3 linked regions of the Homo sapiens genome follow. The protein of the gene in region 2 interacts with the protein of the main gene of each other region in a pairwise test. Each region holds a gene or a part of one and is shown on either strand. Other genes may lie near its edges.

Region 1 (5,634 bases), about 76 Mb from region 2:
GGAAGATAGAGCTCATAACCTTATACAGAAAACGTCCTGAATAATTAAAATAATAACATTCAGACAAGTTCATGAACATTACTTACATTATATAAGACTTTTCAATGACCACCACCTGACACAAAACCTTAGTATACCTTTTCCAAGAGAAAACAATGTGGGGAAGGGAAGTGAATATTAAATCTTACCACTGGTTTTTGGAAAAGTTAGTATCTTGCTGACAGTTTCCCTAGAACAGAAGTAGCTTGCATAGACTTCAAGCAATATTTTATTGACATATGAAACCTGAAAAATCTTAATAGATTTCTCCATATTACACAGATTATGTCTTTCAAAATAAGTTTTGTTTTCTCGCTGGTTTGTTAAATGATGCTTCAGGTTCCTGAAGTGGTTTGTACTTAAAACCATCCCACATTTTGATTCCCATCCATTCTCCACACACAATTCTCTCCATGAATTTTTAACGAGGAATAGTCCTGTATAAAAGCCATTGAGTCAGAGGGGGACACATCAATTAAAAATAAAACCTGGAAATATCATTCAGCAATCTGCTTTTAGATCTTTTTAAGCTGATGAATTTTATTTCAGTAAAAACAATGAAAAGTAAAAATTCTCCATCATTTTCGAAAGGAGAGACATTAAAAAATAGAGGGGCTAAAAGGCAAAAATGGAAGAGCACGAAACAACTGATCATGGCTGGCTATGCTAGAATTAAAAAATAAACTCTTAAAATAGGACCAACTAACATTTACAAATGATAACGCATCAGAACTGTTCTTTTTATTTTTTTGTAACAGGCAAGAAAATGTAAGGGTAATCTTAAAATACACAGTTAAGGCTTCACAGGAAACACATGAGTATACTACTCACAAAATCCTTGGAATAAACGCTACTTGCTCATTCAAGGGCATCATCATTCCACTCTAGATGGCCTCTTAAAGTTTTTTCTTACTCATGTAGGCAGATGTAACTGCTCTTCTATGCTTTTATGACACCTAATAATATCTTCATTATAACAAGTAGCACATTATAATTGTCTTTCTCTGTCTCCCCAGCAGCCTGTAAGAAGGTCAGAACTGGGTCTTTTCAAATATATATCCACAGTCCCTGGTATTGTAGGAATTATAAAAATGTCGCAACTAATGGGTGTCCTGCCTTGGGTTTAGCAATCATATATTATTGACTTCTCAGAATCCTGCAAGGTAAACAGTATAGATGAATTACACTCAAAGAGGTCAAGTAGTCGATGCTCTGTGAGTGGCAGGTTAATAACGGAAGTCCCACAAGGTAGGTCCACAACTTGGACCCACAAGATAATGACAGTGTGGCTGTGTAAGACTATAAACCACAGAGATGATCTCAGTAAGGATGGAAAACAGATTACGTTTTTAAAAAGGTCATCCTCATGAAAAGGAAAATGATTCCTACAGAGGAATGACAGCTCGCGAAGCTTCTTAAAGTACAACATTCAAGCACCACAGCACATGCCTAAGGGAAGCATTAGAAGAGATTAGAAGGAAAAGGCCGTGGAGACCTCAATCCCTCCTCCTCCCACCGCGGGCCTGGCCTCCACCGCCACCTCTGCCAGGCGGGCATGGAAGGGGCGACCTCTCCGATGCGCACTGCCGGGCGCGAAGCCGCCCGCGCACCCTCCCCCAGCGCGGCGCGTGCCACTGGCCCGGGAGGCCCAGGCGTGGGCAGCCGGGTACCTAGCTCGGCCACGGTAGCCGCGCAGCCGGACAGTAGGAATTTGCTCGCTCGGGGCCATCTCTGGGTCAGCGGCAAAAGCCTCTCCTCCTCCTCCGGGACGGACATTCAGCAGTAGCGCAAGACGATAACGCACTCCTTCTCGCCGCTGCGCTGCACCGCGCCGCGGCGGCCGCTTCCCTGCCAGGGCGGCCCCTTTTCAACCGGCGAGTGGCCGGGTGAGGACCATTTCCCTCGTTCGGCTCGGCCGGGTGGACCCGCAACCTTCCTAGCAGTCCCAGCTGGAGTGGTCCAGCTGCCCCTTACACCCCAGAATAGAAAAACACAGCGGAGCCCAGGAGGTTACTGGGCAATGTAGTCCGCCGGGCTCCGCTACGTCTCTGATTGGCCGGCCGCGGGTCCCTCTGCGGCTCCGCCCCCGGCCTCCATGGCAACGCGGCTGGTTCTCGCCCGTCAGTCCTAGCCCGGCCCTGCCCCTCCTTGCATTTTTTCCGCGCTGGCTGAGATTCAAAGAGAAGTGGAGGTGGGAGGGAGCGACAATGGAAAAATCACCTGAAAACTGGGACAGAGGAAGGAAGCTACAGTTACGAAGGAGAGCTGCAAAAGTTGCAGCAGAAAGGTTGGGAGTCCCGACAGGTTCCGTAGCCCACAGAAAAGAAGCAAGGGACGGCAGGACTGTTTCACACTTTTCTGCTTCTGGAAGGTGCTGGACAAAAACATGGAACTAATTTCCCCAACAGTGATTATAATCCTGGGTTGCCTTGCTCTGTTCTTACTCCTTCAGCGGAAGAATTTGCGTAGACCCCCGTGCATCAAGGGCTGGATTCCTTGGATTGGAGTTGGATTTGAGTTTGGGAAAGCCCCTCTAGAATTTATAGAGAAAGCAAGAATCAAGGTATGTGGTCGTGGCAGACGGGGTCTCCAGAGGAGACAATGCTTTCTTTTTTAAACTTTCTTTCATTGACTCTTAAGTGCAGGGCTAGAACACGGGGAACATACCTGCTTGCCTCAACTAAAGGATCTAGTCATTTCTGAATTCCTCTACTAACAATTAACAACAATATCCTGTGCAAAATTTTGCGAAAGAAATGAAATACAATTGCAGCGTGCATCGACATTTTTGGAAGTAGAGATTAACTTTTCGTATTTTTACTTCATCGAAGTTAAGTTCCAAATGTGTATGTGTTAAGTAAATGTTTTCAGTAATTGGGAAAGATAAAGTGTAATCCAATTTAAGTTTGTGAAAATGAGTAATTCGTATCCAAATTGGAGTTAACACCAAAGTATTGTACAAATTGCTTGCACAGTTGGTCCGTACACAATAAACAGGCTCTGTATTTTTAGCTGACGTTGTTATTTGATGATGATGTACTCCATTTTCACTACGGCCTGAAGAGACTAGTAATCCTCCTTGTAGTAGATGTTTTTGTCTTGAAAGTATCTTTTAAATGTCTGAGCACTTTAAGGAACAGACCTTTATTAATGTCTTTTAAGTTTTATTCAATTTCCAGTCACAAATATTTTATGGTATTTGATTGTCTAATAAATTTGTATGATATTATAATTATTCTTATGAATTATAATACTTTCTGTGGTGACCCATTTTCCATCTGGTTAGCCCAATTTGTAGAATGAATTTATACGTAGTAGCATTATTTTACCACTGATCATTTGCCTTCAAAATCTCTGAGATTCCAATTTAGTAAAAAACATATAGAAAATTAAAGAGAACTAAGATGAAAATAAAAATAACCCAGAATATCACACCAGCTGTACTGTAAAAATTTAGTGTATTTATATTATTTTGGTCATTTTCCTATGTATTTACAACTATTTAATGAACAACAATGGAATAATAGTATAATACTCTTTTATGTGCTTTTGATTTTAACATATAATGTGAATGACTTTCCTGTACCATGAAATACTTTGAATCTTCCTTTTATGGCTATATTTTGTCATAGGAGGATACAATAGTTTACTTAAATCTCAATAGTTGGGTTTATAGGTTGCTGCCAAACTTTTTTCTTTCAGCCAGTGCTTCAGTGAACATTCTTGCGTGTTTGTGTGCATGTATTGATTGTGTGGTTGTACATTTTGCAATTATCTGATTGTTTACTCAGAATAAATTCCTAGGAGTAGAATTGCTGAGTCAAAGGACATGCACACTTAAATTGTTTATATGAATGTGTTACTTTTGGAAAAAGAAGTATGAATATGCAATTTTTATTTTCCATTGACTGTATGCAATTGCCTAACTTCTCAAATCCTGGGCCATACTGAATACCATAATTCTTTGCAATTTTTGCTAGTCTGATAGATGAAACATTATATCTCCTAAAGAAATACTCCTTTGTCTCCCACAGCCTTCCTTATGCATATGATCTTGATAATTTTTAAGGAACTGTTTTTTTACAAGCTTGTGTCAGAAGGCTAAATATTTGTGAGGTCTCTATTGCTTTCCTGACTAAACAAAACAAGTTATTGCTGGACTCTGTGTCTCACACCTGTAATCCCAACACTTTGGGAGGCAGGGGTGGGAGGATTGCTTGAGGCCAGGAATTTAAGACCAGCCCGGGAGATATAGCAAGACCTCATTTCTACAAAAACTAAATAGAAAAATAAAAAATTTAATCTGGTCCAGTGGCACATGCCTGTAGTCCCAGCTCCTCGAGAGGCTGAGGCGGGAGGATTGCTTGAGCTCAGGAGTTCCAGATTCCGGTAAGCTATGATTGAGCCACTGCACTCGAGCCTGGGCAACAGAGCGAGACCTTGTCTCTTAAAAAAAAAAAAAAAAAAAAAAAAAAAAAAAAAAAGAATATGACTGCATTATTTGATGTTTTACTACTAAAAGCTTTTAAGGTTCACTCTTGTCTTTTCTTGTACCCTTAATCTGGGCAGTATGATAAAAAAAAAAGCCAGAGTGCTCCCACCTTTGGTGCCAGGGGAGATTCAAATCACACAAACCTCAACCTTCATGCAGGAAGGCTCACACCAGCCTACCCCCTAACCACAATGAAACCCTAAGACCTGTCTCTTTTCACTGTTTTCTCAAGTCATTTTCAGATCAGCTTGAGAGGACTGCCCTTCTTTCCCCAGAGAAGTCTCATTGTGTATGAAATAAACCTCTTCATACCCTCTCAAGGTGTGTATGTGTGTATGTGTGTGTGTGTGTGTGTGTGTGTGTGTAAATGTAGTAATTGTCTTAACATCCAAACCAGATCTTGGGTGGGGGTCCATTCTGAGTTTTCGCAGTGGCTGCAACAGGTACTCAGTAGACTTGATGCGAAATTGCATCTAAATGGCACCTGCATAAGACACTACTTATGGCGTATTGAACCTTCAAGAAAAAACTTCTAAAACTCCATCATTAGCTAACACTCTCAGCTTCTCATGCTCCTCTAGAAGACTGAGAAGAGACAACTTTGGTGACCACAAAAACATCTTCCCATTATTTTTATTTAATCTTTGAATAGATCATGCATTTATACGGTTCAAAAAATTGTAAATATAAAAACTACGGGGAAAGTCCCTTCAACCTCTTTTTCCCTTCCACCCAGTTCTCACTCCTCACTCCCAACCTTGGCAACTGTAATTCATTTCTTATATATTGTTTCATAGTTTCTTTAACTGTATACAAGCAAATAGAATTATAGATTTTTATTTTCCGCCTTATAAGCAAAATGTGTCATATTATTCACACTGTTCCTATGTCAGTAGGGATTTACTCTTTACATATTAGTACCATATAGAACTCCTAATTCTTTGAAGATGCATGGATATGGCTACATTTATTTAATAAGTTTCCTCATCGATAGACATATGGTAGTCAGATTTCTAAGATAACCTGCAATGATCTTGCAACGATTCCCTTGTGTAATCACTTCCTTTTGAGTGTCAACAAAACCTAGTGACTCACCTCTAATG
Region 2 (3,992 bases):
AACTTTCCTCTGCAATTCATTCTACTTCACATATCAATGCACTTGGTAAGAAAATAACAAAATGACAAGCAGTAAAATCTAATTCATGCCAGAACACTGGAGAAGTTACATGGGAAGCAAAAACATACACAACTTTACAAAAGTTGGGAATACTGTTTTCAAATAAGCAATAATCAAAGTGGGACTTTCATGCTAGAAGTCTCACTCAGTCAAAATCACGATTTGTAAGAACAAGTGGTGCCACGAGTGTCCAAACATACAGCACGATGCCAATCCAACTGGAAGAGATTTTCACCCAGACAGCTGTCCACTGACTTTTCATCTCACGAGAGGGTTCATACCTAAAATTTCAGGGAAAATTATTAAAAAGGGGCAAGGGGGTTGAATTATCAGCCACCAAGCTATGAAGCTTCATTAATTCAGAAGCGTGCTTTGTATACAGTTTGTGATTTCAGATATATCATTGCTGCATCTAATCTGCTCCCTTTCTTTCCACACTGCTAGTGTGAAGGTAAAAATCTGTTATTTCCTTTAATGGAGTAAAGTATACAGGCCTCTGAAATAGTTATTTTGCATAATCTCTGAAGCACTTTATGCATGTCTGCCATGTTATTAGACAGAAGAGGAACTGAATGTGACCTCTGGATAAATGAGATGTCACTATTACATAAGATTGTTCAAGATGTATATGGAACTCCTCACCTGATTTCCACTCCCCCAACCCCCTCCCCCGCCCCTCCCTTCTCAGAATTAAGAGACTGGTATGACTCAGAGATATCTCCTTAAAAAAAGAAAGAATTAAGAGACTGGGAAGGAAATATATCTCAAGTTTAAGTGATTTTTGAGTTAATGAAATATACCAAAATCCTTCTGGTATAAAGCCTTAATATCTACTATTATGTGACAGCCAAGGATCTGAGTTAAGAACCAGCTGGTACTCGGGAGGCTGAGGCAGGAGAATGGCGTGAACCTGGGAGACAGCTTGCAGTGAGCTGAGATCAAGCCACTGCACTCCAGCCTGGGTGACAGAGCAAGACTCCATTTCAAAAAAAAAAAAAAAAAGAACCAGCTGGATTCTTATAGCTTAATACGCTACAGTGTAAGAATTAAAAAATATATATACTTTTCAATAATAAAAATCAGTAAAGGCTGCACTCAAAGACATACAACAAAGAATAATCTTTTTCCTCCATCTTTTGCTGATACTGAGAGCCGCCTTACAATTTGTTTATTAATATTATGCATTAAAAAGTTATTAAAAACAGAACTTCCCAAACCACATAGTTCAATTTGAATCTTTGACCAAATCTTTCAGTAATCATTTGGACAAAACCAGAACTTTCAAAAATGAAACACTATAAATCACTATCTTCCTTTTAACAGAAAAAGATTTATGGATTAAGTTTGAAGTGATTAAAAAAAAAAGTAGCTTGTAAGAATTCTAAGCTTGTAGAATTTGTAGAAATTGTTGCTTGTAGAAAGAATTCTAAGCTTGTAAAAATTGTGGCTTGTAAGAATTCTAAGAATCTATCTACATTAATGAATTCATACTTAAATTTAAAAATTTTCAGAGCTTTTAATGACAGTTCAAACAAAAGAGAAAAAAGGATGTATCCTTTACTTCACTATCTTTACAGAATTGAAAAAAAAAATGTTAGATCCACTATCAACATGGATTTTTGTAAAAAGTATTAGTTTCATGAAAATTTTTATTTTAATCTCTCCAAGATTTGGAACTATTTCAATGTTTGTGTTACTGTTAAAGCAAGGAAGTAAAGACTGCATTTCTCATGCTGATCTCACTATTCATTTAGCTGTACATTTTGAAATATATCAGAGGATAAAAAGTACTTCATATCACATCATGGTTTCACAAGAGAATCATAAAATGCCATCAGAATTCACACATCCAGAGTTTTCATGAAATATAAATACCTGTACCAGTTGGTAAGGGTCATCATGATATAAAGTGAAGCCAGGAAAAGCATGAAGTGAAAGAAGGAATAACTGTAAGTGACACCATCCCTTTCATTATCTACAGCTCGGTGAACATCGTCCCCATCCTCCAGTGATCCATCACTTCTAGCTCCACCATCTTCTATTAATGTAGATTCATCACTTGTTAGAGTCAGTTTATTAACCTGACTATTGTTTGAAGTACGGATGCTGTATGAAAGAGAGTTTAGGAGGAGAGAAAAAAAAGAACATTTTTAAAAGAAATGATTCATAAATAAACAGCTAGACTTCTTGTTTAAAGAAAAAAATTCCATAGTTTTTCCTACCTGGAATAAAATACACACAACAAAAAGAGAATTAGTCCTATAATTCCTTGAGCATGCCACCACTGGACTGACTGCCCTTCCTTTGGGACAGTGCTTGTTGTATTGTAGCCAATTATGCTTAGTAGACTTGGGTTGCAATTTGTTTCTGTAATATAAAGCCAAATTAAAATGTTAGAATATATTAAAAAGATGTTTTTCAGAGCAAACAAAAGTTATTTTTAACTCTCTATACCCCTGCAAATTGAGAAACAATTGCTGGAAAAGGCATCAGTATAACAAAAATAATTGAAGAAAACTTGCACTTATTAATAAGACCTTTGAAGTGTTAATAGTTCTGATTTTATAGAAGTACCTGGAAAAGTTAAATCATTTAATTTTCAACAACATGTGATAGCTGAGAGATAATTACCTCTACAATCAGGAAAGAGGTGAAATATAGATGAACTTTCTAAGGTTAGTATAATTCTAGTAGATTTAGAAAGAAAATTCAGAGATTATAAACCACAATGCACTGGCTTTTCTATCATATGTTGAGATTATGATACAGACTTTATGAAGCTTATCAATTTGATACAGCACATTGTTAAAAAACCAAGACAGCTTACACAAAAACCAGTTATAAGGACTCCAGCAAATGCCTCATGGAAATTACCCAATAAAGTATAATGACCTACTGCTTACTCAAGTCTTATTCTTTTATAAAGAAGAAAGTAGGCAAGGTGCGGTGGCTCATGCCTGTAATCCCAGCACTTTGGGAGGCCGAGGCGGGCGGATCACAAGGTCAAGAGATAGAGATCATCCTGGCCAACATGGTGAAACCGCTTCTCTACTAAAAATACAAAAATCAGCTGGGCGTGGTGGCATGTGCCTGTAGTCCCAGCTACTCGGGAGGCTGAGGCAGAAAGACTCGAACCCGGGAGGCGGTTGCAGTGAGCCGAGATCATGCCACTGCATTCCAGCCTAACGACAGAGCGAGACTCTGTCTCAAAAAAAAAAAAAAAAAGTAGGATTGCTAAAATATTCACTAAAGTGTCTAAAATACATATTTTTCTCCTGCAAAGCCAGATCTGTCAAACTCCATCTTACTAATGAAAATGATTCTTACCTTAAAGCCAATTAGGTAAGGCTATTTCCTTCTCTAAAGCAAACTACTAATAATTTTTTTCTAACCACCTACCTGGAAAAAAACAGGAAATCTTTGTGTAATACATCAAAACAAAAAAACAAAAAATAAATTGGTCTCCAAGTTATAAAGTACCTATGATAAAATACCTACAGTTTGTAAACTCAATGAGATTCATATAACATCAGATAAATTTTTTAGGAAAAGAGATCATTTTCTTCTTTTTAATAGGTAATAATTTTTGTCTATTCTAATTTGTCTCCTTTCAACATATGTTTCTATTCTCATGGTATGCAATATAACTAGCCTATAATAAGATGCATTACAAAGCCCAATTATCAAATTCAATTGTAAGGTAGTCACAGGCTAAAAGAGTAATTTAATAATGTGAAAAAATTATACTGTTCACAATTGAATCAACAGGAATTTGAAGAGTTTTTCTTTCTATATACGACAATTATATGCTCTATGCAAATCAGATACCTTTCTTATAATTTCACCCAGTTTCTTACATAGACATACCTTGTTTTACTGTGCTTTGCCTATTTTTTTTTTTTTTTTTTTTTAGCATTTTACAGATACTGTTC
Region 3 (5,014 bases), about 110 Mb from region 2:
CCTTAACAAACTCTTTCTTGTGCTCTGTTTCACAGCCCTGCTTTTTAGTGGAAGTGGAAAGACCTAATTAGGGAGAGAGGTTGGTTAAGTTGTAGAATATGAAGACCATTTAAAGTACCAAGCTGCCTTCTGTTCCTCTAAAAACTGCCCTTACACATGGGAGGAGTTAACTGTTGGTCAGGGCTATGTTCCCACCTATGTGGGGACTGGCTAAAGGCAGGAGGTTCAGGGGAACAGAGCTTGACCATCTTAAGGAACCCATCCCCCCAAAAATGACCAGCTACTTTGCCCAGGTATTTGATGCCAATAAGGGAATTTTTCCATAGCTGAGCTACACAGGCTTTAGACATTCTGTAGAATATTTTTTCGGTTTTAGCCTTACTGACGTTGTGAACCAGATAACTCTTTGCTGTGGGGTGCTATTGTGTGCATTATGGGATAGTTAGCAATGTCCCTGGCCCTCTAGACACTAGACACTAGTAGCGTCCCCCAACCCCTGTCATTATAATAAGAAATGTCTCCAGACATTGCCAGATATCTCCCAAGGGGCAAACTTGCCTCCATTTGGGAAGCACTGCTATTAGATGGTGCCACCCATACACCAGGGGGTCCTTTCCCTCTCATGCAAGCAGTCAGGTGACTGATCTAGATAAAACTCAAACAGTGATCATTTTTCATAATATTTTTATATTTTCTTCCCATAAATGTCTTCTCTTTGCTGGTATACCGATGAAATAAACTTCAACAGTATGTGTTTGTTGTCCCCTCTTTAGATTTTTTTTTTATTACTAGTAGGTATATTGTTGTACTCAGGCTGAGAGTAACCCGGAATTTTACATACAGCTCTGGTTAATCATTTCAAATAATCTATATGGAAGATTTTCTTAATTCACTTTTTAATGTCTTTGAGTGTACTCTAAACCATTATTGGTGTGTAGTATTTTAGCTTGAAGTAATCACATTAATTTAGCCAATGTCTATAAATTACATTTTATTTTCACTAACAAATCTTTAAATAAATAGAACAGCTGTTTTGCTTAGATGTTATAATAACAAGTGAGCTTTCTATTTTTTCCTACTAGTACTTTTTTTTTTTTTTTTTTGAGGTGGAGTCTCGCTGTGTTGCCTAGGTTGAAGTGCAGTGGCACAATCTTGGCTCACTACAATCTCCTCCTCCCAGGTTCAAGCGATTCTCATGCCTCACCCTCCCGTATAACTGGGGTTACAGGCATCCACCAACACGCCTGGCTAATTTTTGTATTTTTAGTAGAGACTGGGTTTCACCATGTTGGTCGGGCTGGTCTTGAACTCCTGACCGCAAGTGATCCTCCCACCTCATCCTCCCAAAGTGCTAGGATTATAGGCGTGAGCCACCATGCCCAGCCACTTTTAATTTTTTAATGCAATTTATTTCTCAAATCATTTTTTTCTGGTTATCTTTTAAAAGAGGCACTGTATAGGGAATGATGGCTGCTTTCTAAATCTTTGAAGCTCATGTGGGCTAATGATAAATGCCTCGCACAGGGCCAACCATAGTTTATGTGCAATACATTTAGGTGGAACTGTTTTCCATTTGTTGTTTTCTCTGTGTTTTTATAGGCATTGAAACACCCATATTTTCAAGTTGGTCAGGTATTAGGCCCTTCGTCAAATCATCTGGAATCAAAACAGTCTTTAAATAAGCAGCTGCAACCATTAGAATCAAAGCCATCTTTAGTTGAGGTAGAGCCTAAGCCTCTGCCGGATATAATCGATCAGGTTGTTGGACAACCCCAGCCAAAAACTAGCCAGCAGCCACTGCAGCCCATTCAGCCGCCACAGAACCTGAGCGTCCAGCAACCTCCAAAGCAACAGAGTCAGGAGAAACCGCCACAAACGCTATTCCCGAGCATCGTCAAAAACATGCCAACTGTGAGTAGCCAGTCATGACACTTGCAATGAAATAGTTTGACTCGTGCAATTAAGATTTTTTTCGAGGCATTTCTAATAATGTTGGAAAAGATATAAAAGATTTTTCTTTGTTAAAGACCCTGAGTCCTCTGGTTGGAGCTTGACATGAGATCACTTAAAATTCTAATATGGTTTATAAAAAGAAAAACTTTCAGGATAAAAGTAACCAAGTTTACATGCTACAGTCTTCAGTCTTTTTTCTTTTTCTTTTTTTGAGACGGAGGTTCGCTTTTGTTGCCTAGGCTGGAGTGCAGTGGCACGACCTTAGCTCACTGCAATCTCTGACTCCTGGGTTCAAGCGATTCTCCTGCCTCAGCCTCCCAAGTAGCTGGGATTACAGACGCCCACCACCACGCCTGGATATTTTTTTGTATTTTTAGTAGAGATGGGGTTTCACCATGTTGTCCAGGCTGGTCTTGAGTTCCTGACTGCAAGTGATACACCCGCCTTGGCCTCCCAAAGTTCTGGGATTACAGGCATGAGCCACTGCACCTGGGCTTTTCTTTTTTATTTCTTGAGACGGAGTTTCACTCTATTTGCCCAGGCTGGAGTGCAATGGCACGATCTTGGCTCACTGCAACCTCCACCTCCCAGGTTCAAGCAGTTCTCTTGCCTCAGCTTCCTGAGTGGCTGGGATTATAGGCACCCACCACCACACCCAGCTAATTTTTGTATTTTTAGTGGAGACCATGTTGGCCAGGCTGGTCTCGAACTCCTGACCTCAGATGATCCACCCATCTCGGCCTCCCAAAGTGCTGGGATTACAGGCGTGAGCCACCAAGCCCGGCCTAAAATTCTTTCAATGCAGAAGAATTCAAAGAAAGAATTTAAAAGAATCGGGTACTCCAGAGTACTGATCCTAAATCTTAAGAATTTTTAACAGTACTTTCATTTTACAGTGTTCTTAAATGCTAAGGAACATGGAGAGAATGGGTTTTTATTTATTATTATTATTATTATTATTTTGAGACAGAGTTTTGCTCTTGTTGCCCAGGCTGGAGTGCAATGGTGTGATCTCAGCTCACCACAACCTCCACCTCCCAGGTTCAAGCAATCCTCCTGCCTCAGCCTCCTGAGTAGCTCGGATTACAGGCATGTGCCACCATGCCCAGCTAATTTTGTATTTTTAGTAGAGATGGGGTTTCTCCATGTTGGTCCGGCTGGTCTTGAACTCCTGACCTCAGGTGATCCACCCTCCTTGGCCTCCCAAAGTGCTTGGATTACAGGCCTGAGCCACCGCACCTGGCCAGAATAGGTTTTTAAAGTGTCAGGCATAGTATAAAACTTTTTCTTCCATCTTTTGTTCAGCTCCAGGAGCTCTTCAGTTGCTGTAGTATTTTAGCTGTCCCACTGGGTATACACTCCCAAATGTGTTTGCATTATGGCATTTTAGGATGGAAATCGGTCTTATACAGCACTGTATCTATTTCCTTCCAGTCCCCAACTGCCCCACCAACCTAGATAAGCAAGGCCTCCTCGTCCCCCAATAGCACTAATCACATTCTAACATACTGTTAATTACTTCTTATGTTTATTGTTTATTTGTCTCTTCCTCTGGAATGCAGCAAGCTCAGTGAGGTCAGGAATGTTTGTGTGTTTATCAGTACAGCCTCAGCACCCCGACCAGTGCCTGCCACATGGTAGATTCTCAGTAGATATTTGTTCAGTGAATGAAGGAATGAATAATTGCCCACATGACTTGTAAACCACCTCTGGGGTCCTGGGGAGTCCACTTTTATCTTTGGAACAGTTCTGAATATTAGAAAGTTCTTCCTTAATACTGGGTAAAATCTGGTTTTCTAGCTTTTAATGAAGGCTAATCACTTTTCTAGAAAGGCAGCCTTTTAGATATTTGAAAATAGCCCTTATATTATCTGCCCTTTTCTCTAGAGAAACTTCTCCAATTCCCTTAAGGGCTCTGCATATAACACCATTCACCAATGACTGATAACTCTCAGTTCCTATTATGAATGTGTCTTTAAGTCCCCTCTCATCTTGCTTTCCACTTAGAATGAGGTTGCCAGAGCTAGAGGCAGACAGCAGGCAGGGAATATAGAGCAGGGCGAATCACCTCCGACATTCTAAACCATATGTGCACTCGTGCCACCAACGATGACAGTCCTCCCCATGACCCCTTGGAAGATGCATCAATTGTTGACTCATATTGTGAGGGAAGGAAAGGAAGTTAATATTTATTGAGTAGCTTCCAAGTGCCATGCATATGCGAGGGACGCTGTGTGCATTCTCTAAGTTAAAGAGAATAACCTAGCCCCCAGCCCCGCCACACACACATTTTTATATAGGTGAGTTCCAGAGCTGGGATTAAGTACTGTGTTAACTAAAATTTCTAAGTATACCTGTTTTTTCACAAATGCTTCTCCTAAATTGCATATTCTGTACCTCTGACTTGTGTATTTCATCTCTAGGATTCAAAAAGTTGCAAGATCTCTTACCTCTTCAATTTCTAATTATTTTTGAATCTGTATTTTTTCTTCTCAGTTTACCCATTCTGCCCAGCTTGTTGCCAGCTGTGTATTTGTTTAGTTGTCTGTTTTGCTCCTGAATCTTCATGATGAATAGAACGACCGTGAGATCTTGGGCAGGCTACTAGAACCTTTCTCTAGATTGACGTTGATCCATTTGTCAGTACTGTTGGTCAAGTTCTTCAACTATGTGCTGATCCCCTTTGCTGCCTTCACCCACTGGGCTGAAGTCCACATACACTACACTGAATGAATTCATTGTTTGCCTTTTATGAAAAAGTGTGGTCTATATGAGCTATCACTGTTTTTCCTTAGTGCTCACAAACATCCCCTTTAATAATTGATTTTAGAATCTTTGCCCTCATCCTCTACCAAACTTACTGATGTGGAGTTTGCAAAAATAAATCTTCTACTTTATTAAAAGTATTATATTTGCCCCTTTCCAGTCTTCTCAGCCATACCAGATTCTTGCATATCACTGATATTGTTCAGCAGTGTTCAGGATCAGTACCCTAAAATACAATTCAACAGAAGGGAGGCTCAAACTCAGCTAAGGGTAACCTTTTATTAACCCTACTCAT

Evidence for each region.
Region 1: the proteins of SERINC1 (region 2) and CYP39A1 interact in a two-hybrid assay, tested with the Homo sapiens proteins (one large-scale study listed by BioGRID and IntAct).
Region 3: the proteins of SERINC1 (region 2) and MAK interact in a two-hybrid assay, tested with the Homo sapiens proteins (one large-scale study listed by BioGRID and IntAct).

Annotation. Positions count from the first base shown.
Region 1 is NC_000006.12:46,649,374-46,655,007, reverse strand, and holds the start of CYP39A1 (24-hydroxycholesterol 7-alpha-hydroxylase), read left to right. Parts: upstream 1-2,189; 5' UTR 2,190-2,425; coding exon 2,426-2,602; intron 2,603-5,634. Other genes in the region: SLC25A27 (mitochondrial uncoupling protein 4), read right to left, coding at 1,710-1,815. UniProt on the Homo sapiens protein: A cytochrome P450 monooxygenase involved in neural cholesterol clearance through bile acid synthesis. Catalyzes 7-alpha hydroxylation of (24S)-hydroxycholesterol, a neural oxysterol that is metabolized to bile acids in the liver.
Region 2 is NC_000006.12:122,444,839-122,448,830, forward strand, and holds part of SERINC1 (serine incorporator 1), read right to left. Parts: intron 2,428-3,992; coding exon 2,283-2,427; intron 2,167-2,282; coding exon 1,936-2,166; intron 342-1,935; coding exon 206-341; 3' UTR 1-205.
Region 3 is NC_000006.12:10,792,895-10,797,908, reverse strand, and holds part of MAK (serine/threonine-protein kinase MAK), read left to right. Parts: intron 1-1,599; coding exon 1,600-1,911; intron 1,912-5,014. UniProt on the Homo sapiens protein: Essential for the regulation of ciliary length and required for the long-term survival of photoreceptors. Phosphorylates FZR1 in a cell cycle-dependent manner. Plays a role in the transcriptional coactivation of AR.